2 linked regions of the Homo sapiens genome follow. The protein of the gene in region 1 purifies or fractionates together with the protein of each later gene. This does not show direct contact. Each region holds a gene or a part of one and is shown in the gene's direction. Other genes may lie near its edges.

Evidence for each region.
Region 2: the proteins of CAD (region 1) and PIP4K2B fractionate together in Homo sapiens (co-fractionation; one large-scale study listed by BioGRID). This does not show direct contact.

What each region holds. Positions count from the first base shown.
Region 1 is NC_000002.12:27,227,369-27,230,868, forward strand, and holds part of CAD (multifunctional protein CAD), read left to right. Parts: intron 1-3,500. UniProt on the Homo sapiens protein: Multifunctional protein that encodes the first 3 enzymatic activities of the de novo pyrimidine pathway: carbamoylphosphate synthetase (CPSase; EC 6.3.5.5), aspartate transcarbamylase (ATCase; EC 2.1.3.2) and dihydroorotase (DHOase; EC 3.5.2.3).
Region 2 is NC_000017.11:38,775,557-38,779,056, reverse strand, and holds part of PIP4K2B (phosphatidylinositol 5-phosphate 4-kinase type-2 beta), read left to right. Parts: intron 1-684; coding exon 685-723; intron 724-1,256; coding exon 1,257-1,370; intron 1,371-3,500. UniProt on the Homo sapiens protein: Participates in the biosynthesis of phosphatidylinositol 4,5-bisphosphate. Preferentially utilizes GTP, rather than ATP, for PI(5)P phosphorylation and its activity reflects changes in direct proportion to the physiological GTP concentration.

The sequences.
Region 1 (3,500 bases):
AGTATGTTTCTTTGTGGTATCCCTTTAGTTGCCGAAGACCGTCCTCTAACACATTTCAACCAAAACAAAAATATACGTGTACCAGACACAGCGCCACCAGCCTGATGGATAAGAGCATTTTGTGGTGCTCCAGATTTCCATTTAGAGCAGTAGTGGCCTTTAAACAAGTAAGTCTAAGCTCAGATATTATTTCAGAATTTTTAGAAATTCTGCAAGACTGCCAATTTTTTCCTTCTGGAGATGAATCTCTGTTATATGAAAATTAGAATAAACATGGGAATGAAGCCATAATTAAATTGTGGCAAAAAGAAGTGGATTGAAAATAGGCCAATGAAAGATTGGTTCCTAGATGAGACATTTAATTGTTTTACATCTGTTCAAGTATTCTTGGAATGTGGTCTTCTTTGGTAACTTTTTGTAACTTTTATTATACAAGTAAGAAACATGAATCATGGAAAACGAGGAAAGATAGTTTAACCAAAGAACAGTAGTCACCTGTAATCTTGCCTTACAGAGATTGATTAATTCGACCGTGTATCTGCGACTGCATAATTCAGCCGTGTATCTACGACTGCATACATTTCTAGGCATATGTGTATGCATGTATTAGGCTTCTCCTTTTTTAACAAATCTCAAAATAAAAAGTCTTACAACCACAGTTACAAAGAAATTGAACAAAATCAGTCACACTACTGTTAACATCGTAGTGTTTTTAAAACTTTTTTAAAGAAATGTAAATGTTAGGATTGTAAATAGAAAAATACACTTGGTAAGAAATACTTAAGCCCCTAGAGTAAATAGTCAGAGGAGATGAACAACACTTTACAGAAGAAGAAATCAATAAGCAAACCTAGAGAAAAGACGGTTCCTCTCATTAGTAAATAGAAATCTAGTTAAATGAGACTCTGTTTATGCCCACTTCTTAGAAGGTTGCTTAAACTTTGTATTATGAAGCACAGACTTCTATAAAGTTATTCGTACTCATCAAGGGCTATAAAATTTGTGTTACCTATTGCCTCTACATATCTGGAAATTTATCCTAAGGAGATTATCCAAAACAGAAAACATCATATCCAGTCCAGGCACGGTGGTTGTAATTAATCCCAGCACTTTGGAAAGCTCAGGTGGGAGGATCGCTTGAGCCCACGAGTTCAAGGTTGCAGTGAGCTGTGATTGTACCACTGCATTCCAGTCTGGGTGCCAGGCTAAGACCCTGTCTTTTTTGTTTGTTTGTTTGTTTGAGACGGATTTTCATTCTTGTTGCCCAGGCTGGAGTGCAATGGTGTGATCTCGGCTCACCACAATCTCTGCCTCCTGGGTTCAAGTGATTCTCCTGTCTCAGCCTCCAGAGTAACTGGGATTACAGGCATGTGCCATCACGCCTGGCTAATTTTGTATTTTAATAGAGACAGGGTTTCTCCCTGTTGGTCAGGCTGGTCTTGAACGCCCGTGCTCAGGTGATCCACCCACCTTTGGCCTCCCAAAGTGCTGGGATTACAGGCCACTGTGCCTGGCCGAGACCCTGTCTCTTTTTTCTTTTCTTTTTTTTTTTTCTTTTTTTTTTTTTTTGAGGCAGAGTCTTCCTCTGTCGCCAGGCTGGAGTGCAGTGGTGCTATCTCGGCTCACTGCAACCTCTGCCTCCCAGGTTCAAGCGATTCACCTGCCTCAGCCTCCTGAGTAGCTGGGACTACAGGCGCGCACAACCACGCCCAGCTAATTTTTGTATTTTTAGTAGAGACGGGGGTTTCATCATACTGCTTAGGATGGTCTCGATCTCTTAACCTCGTGATCCGCCTGCCTCGGCCTCCCAAAGTGCTGGGATTACAGGCATGAGTCACCATGCCCGGCCGACCCTGTCTCGTTAAAAAAGAAAGAAAACATCACAGCCTAACTTATAATTATGAAAACTTTTTTTTTTAATACGGAGTTTTATTCTGTCACCCAGGGTGGAGTGCAATGGTGTGACTTAGCTCACTGCAGCTTGGATCTTCTAGGCTTAAGTAATCTCCCACCCCATCCTTCTGAGGAGTGAGACTACAGGTGTACACCACCACACCTTGCTAATTTTTTTTTTTAATTATTATTTGTAGAGAGGGAGGTCTCACTATGTTGTGCCGGCTGGTCTCAATCTGCCTTAGGTGATCCTTCTGCCTCAGCCTTCCAAAGTGTTGGATTACAGGTGAGAGCCACCAGGACTGCCTAATTGTAAACACTTAAAAGCGAAATGGGCCGGGCGCGGTGGCTCATGCCTGTAATCCCAGCACATTGGGAGGGTGAGGTGGGCATATCATGAGGTCAGGAGTTTGAGACTAGCCTGGCCAATATGGTGAAACCCCATCTCTAGAAAATATACAAAAATTAGCTAGGCATGGTGGCACGCACCTGTAGTCCCAGCTACTCAGGAGGCTGAGGCAGGAGAATCGCTTGACCTCAGGAAGCAGAGGTTGCAGTGAGCTGAGATTGCACCACTGACTCCAGCCTGGGCAACACAGTGAGACTACGTCTCAGAAAAAAAAAAAAAAAAAAAGCTAAATGTCCTTCAGTTAGTAGTTAAATTATGGCAGATCATACAAGAATTAAGTTAGTTGGTTGGGCGCAGTGGCACACGCCTGTAATCCCAGCACTTTGGGAGGCCGAGGCAGGTGGATCACCTGAGGTTGGGAGTTCGAGACCAGCCTGGCCAACATGGTGAAACCCCGTCTCTACTAAAAATACAAAAATTACCCAGGCATGGTGGCAGGTGCCTGTAATCCCAGCTACTTGGGAGGCTGAGGCAGGAGAATCACTTGAACCCAGGAGGCACAGGTTACACTGAGCTGAGATCATGCCATTGCAGTCCAGCGTGGGTGATGAGAGAAACTCCGTCTCAAGAAAGAATTAAGTTGGTGTTGATGAGGCCATGTGGCAATGTGGGAAAATGTATGATGAGGAAAAAACACAGGATGGAAATTATATGTATGCTGTGATGATATGTAAAACATACCTATGAAGGGCCCGGCACGGTGGCTCACGCCTGTAACCCCAGCACTTTGGGAGGCCGAGGCGGGTGGATCACGGGGTCAGGAGTTTGAGACCAGCTTGGCCAACATGGTGAAATCCCGTCTCTAATTAGCCAGACATGGTGACACGCACCTGTAATCACAGCTACTCAGGAGGCTGAGGCAGGAGAATCTCTTGAACCCAGGAAGCAGAGGTTGCAGTGAGTCGAGACCGTGCCATTGCATTCCAGCCTGGGCAACAAGAGCGAAAGTCCATCTAAAAAAAAAAAACCTATGAACCTATGAAGAAAAGTCCAGAAAGAGAAACTCTAAAATGATTGTTGTAAATGTGATTTGCTCTGCATGGATGAGTAGTAAGGATCATCTTCCTATTATCTACACTTTTTTAAAAAGTTTTAAAGAATTCCAGTTGGTGTTATGATTATGTGAATAAATCAAACCCAATAACTGGACAGCCATCAGTGGTTTGGGCCACTGTGATAAACTTCCAGTATCCAGTGT
Region 2 (3,500 bases), on another chromosome or scaffold:
ATCTCTAGACTCTGAGAAGGACACACTTGTGGCTGTGAACTAGGGTGCTCCGTGTTCTTGAACCTGGCTTCTGACTTCTGTCACCTTATGCCGCCATCCCTTCCCTCTGTGCTGCAACTGGGCTGGTTTCCTCTGTGTTCCTGCAGTGCCTGTGCTCCTCTTCCCAGGATTTCACATCTGCTGTCTGGAATAGTCTCCTTCTCTCTCTCCACCCACTCCTTCCCCCACCTAATTGCTTCCTCCTTACCCTTCTGAGCTCAGCCCAAATACTACTTCCAGGAAGTAGGTAGGCCCTGGCCACTGTCCCTCCCCAGGCCGGGCCCGTGTGGTATGTGCTTTCAGAGTGTCCTGCTCCTCCCTGTACCACTGAGCACCGTGGTAGTGAATGAACTAATGACTTGTGGAACCACTGCTGAATATCTGTCTCCCCTGTTAGAAGGAAAGTAGCTCAAGGGCAGGGACTGAGCTTCTCCAGTGCAGTCCTGTTTGCTGAGCACCTAAAAAGTGTCTTGCACATAGAGCTCTATAAGTGGGCTTGACACAGTAAATGAACAAGGTGCTGCCTCCTGGCCCCTCTAGGACTCTAACAAGCCTACTTGAGTTCACCTGCTGGCTCTCCCATGTTTGCTCATGCAGTCGACTTTGCCTCAGCTTGACTTCCCCTGATGGCTCTTATCCTTTCAGGGTTCTACGGTTGCCAGAGAAGCGAGCGACAAGGAGAAGGTATGCTGGTGCTGAGCAGGAATGGAAGGGTCGCTTGGAGTCAGAAACAACTCCTGTCGGCCATCCTGTCCCTCGCCCACCCCAGCCCCTAGCCCAGCTCCCAGACATGCCGTCTGTCAACATGAAATGCCGTGTGTCATGAATCACCTGTCTGTCCTTGTGCTAGGCCTAGACCTTGGTCTCTGGTCTTTTACCTCTGCCCTCACTACGTTCTTCATAGTCCTGCTGGGATGGCAGACATTTCTATCTCATAGTCCAGCCTGAGTCAGTCAGTGGCTGCCTGAGCCCTGAGCTGGTCCAGGCTCAACAGGAAAGAATCCTTTAGTCATTCCTCATCTTTCATGTGTTTGCCCTCCCTGCCCACCCAAAGCCTGGGACTAGAGGCTCCTGCACTGCTGATTTAGCAGGTTGAGGGTCGGTACACTGACAACCCCTCCTTCCCCTTTCTGTATAGTTGCTCCCGGCAGAACAGTTGGGTGTCCCTGGGGTGAATTAATCAGGCTTACCCAGCCTAACTGCTGTTGCTCTCCTAGGCCAAGGACTTGCCAACATTCAAAGACAATGACTTCCTCAATGAAGGGCAGAAGCTGCATGTGGGAGAGGAGAGTAAAAAGAACTTCCTGGAGAAACTGAAGCGGGACGTTGAGGTACTTACTAACCTTCATTTTCACCTGCAAGGCTCCTTCTGTACCTAGAGTAGGCGCCTCTTAAACCTTAAGAAGAATGGAATTCAGTACTTTCCAGGAGTATGGACAAAAGGGTGGTGATTTGAGCAGCGTGGGCACTTATGGGCACCTAAAGCAAGTGCAAATGATCATTCCACCTGACGGAGCATAGTTGGCGCCAGTAGGACCTTTGTAATTTAGTTTAGAATGCTTTTCCCTTTTCACTAATTCATTCCAACACCTTTTTCAAACTCCCTTCTGCTGTTGTCCCTACAATGGAGAGGGCATCTGGCCATCAGAGCTGTAGGAACCCAGCTATTAAGGTCCTGTAACCCCAACATTTTGGGAGGCTGAGGTGGGAGGATCGCTTGAGCTCAGCAGTTCAATACCAGCCTAGGCAACATAGCAAGACCTCATCTCTACTAAAAATTAAAAAATTTAGCCAGGCGTAGGGGCACACACCTGTAGTCCCAGCTACTTGGGAGGCTGAGGCGAAAGGATTGTTTGAGCCCGGGAGATGAGGCTGCAGTGAGCTGTGGTCTCACCACTACACTCCAGCCTGGGCAACAGAGCAAGACATTGTCTCAAAACAAAAACCGAAAAAGTTGGCTAAGCATGGTGGCTTACTCTTGTAATCCCAGCACCTTGGAAGGGTGAGGCAGGAGGATCACTGGAGCCTGGCAGATCAAGGCAACATGAGCTGTGATCATGCCACTGTGCTCCAGCCTGGGTGACAGAGCAAGACCCTGTCTCAAAAAACAAAAATCCACTAATCAGGTTCTTCTCTGGCTCTGGCTCTGATTCTCCACTTACCTAGCAAACTTCTGTTTGTAATCTGGGGAGGACAGGTGCTAAATAGTGAAAATGTTATCTGGACCACTTGATAACTCAGCGTCTCCTTCTCTTTTAATAAATTGAGAGGCTGCTCGTTAAAACCAAATCCTACAAACAAACTTGGGAAAAAAAATTTTTTTTAATTGTGGTAAAATACATATAATAATAGGTGTTTTTTTTGTTTGTTTGTTTGTTTTGTTTTTTTTTAGGAGATTCTCGTTCTGTCCCCAGGCTGGAGTGCAGTGCAGTGGCACGATCTCGGCTCACTGCAACCTCCGCCTCCTGGGTTCAAGTGATTCTCCTACCTCAGCCTCCCAAGTAGCTGGGACTATAGGCACGCACCTTAACCATTTTGATATATAGTTGAGTGGCATTAAGTATATTCACATTGTTATGCAACCAGCACTACCATTCATCTCTGAACTTTTATCTTTCCCAGCTGAAACTCTATACCCATTAAATACTAATTCCCAATTCCCCCTCCCTAACCCCTGGCAATCAGTGTTCAATTTTCTGCCCCTATGAAGTTGACTACTCTAGGAACTTCACATAAGAGGAAGCAAACAGCCAAGCGAGGTGGCTCATGCCTGTAATCCCAGCACTTTGGGAGGCTGAGGTGGGCGGATCTTCTGAGGTCAGGAGTTTGAGACCAGCCTGACCAACATGGAGAAACCCAGTCTCTACTGAAAATACAAAATTAGCCGGGCATGGTGGTGCACGCCTGTAATCCCAGCTACTTGGGAGGCTGAGGCAAGAGAATCGCTTGAACCCAGGAGGCGGAGGTTGCGGTGACCCTCCAGCTTGGGCAACATGTTATGAATGAAACTCCATCTCAAAAAATAAAAAAAAAAAAAGGAAGCAAACAGCAGTTGTCCTTTTGTGACTCTGTTATTTTGCTTAGCATAATGTCTTCAGGGTTCATCCATACTGTATCATGTGTCAGAATTTTTTTCTTTTTATTATTTATTTATTTGTTTTGAGACAGAGTCTCGCTCTGTTGCCAGGCTGGAGTGCAGTGGTGCGATCTCGGCTCACTGCAACCTCCGCCTCCCGGGTTCAAGCGATTCTCCTGCTTCAGCCTCCCAAGTAGCTGGGACTACAGGCGCGTGCTGCCACGCCCAGCTAATTTTTGTATTTTTTTAGTGGAGACGGGGTTTCACCATGTTGACCAGGATGGTTTCGATCTCCTGACCTCGTGATCTGCCTGCCTCGGCCTCCCAGAGTGCTGGGATTACAGGCGTGAGCCACCACACCTGGCCAGAATTTCTTTCTTTTTAA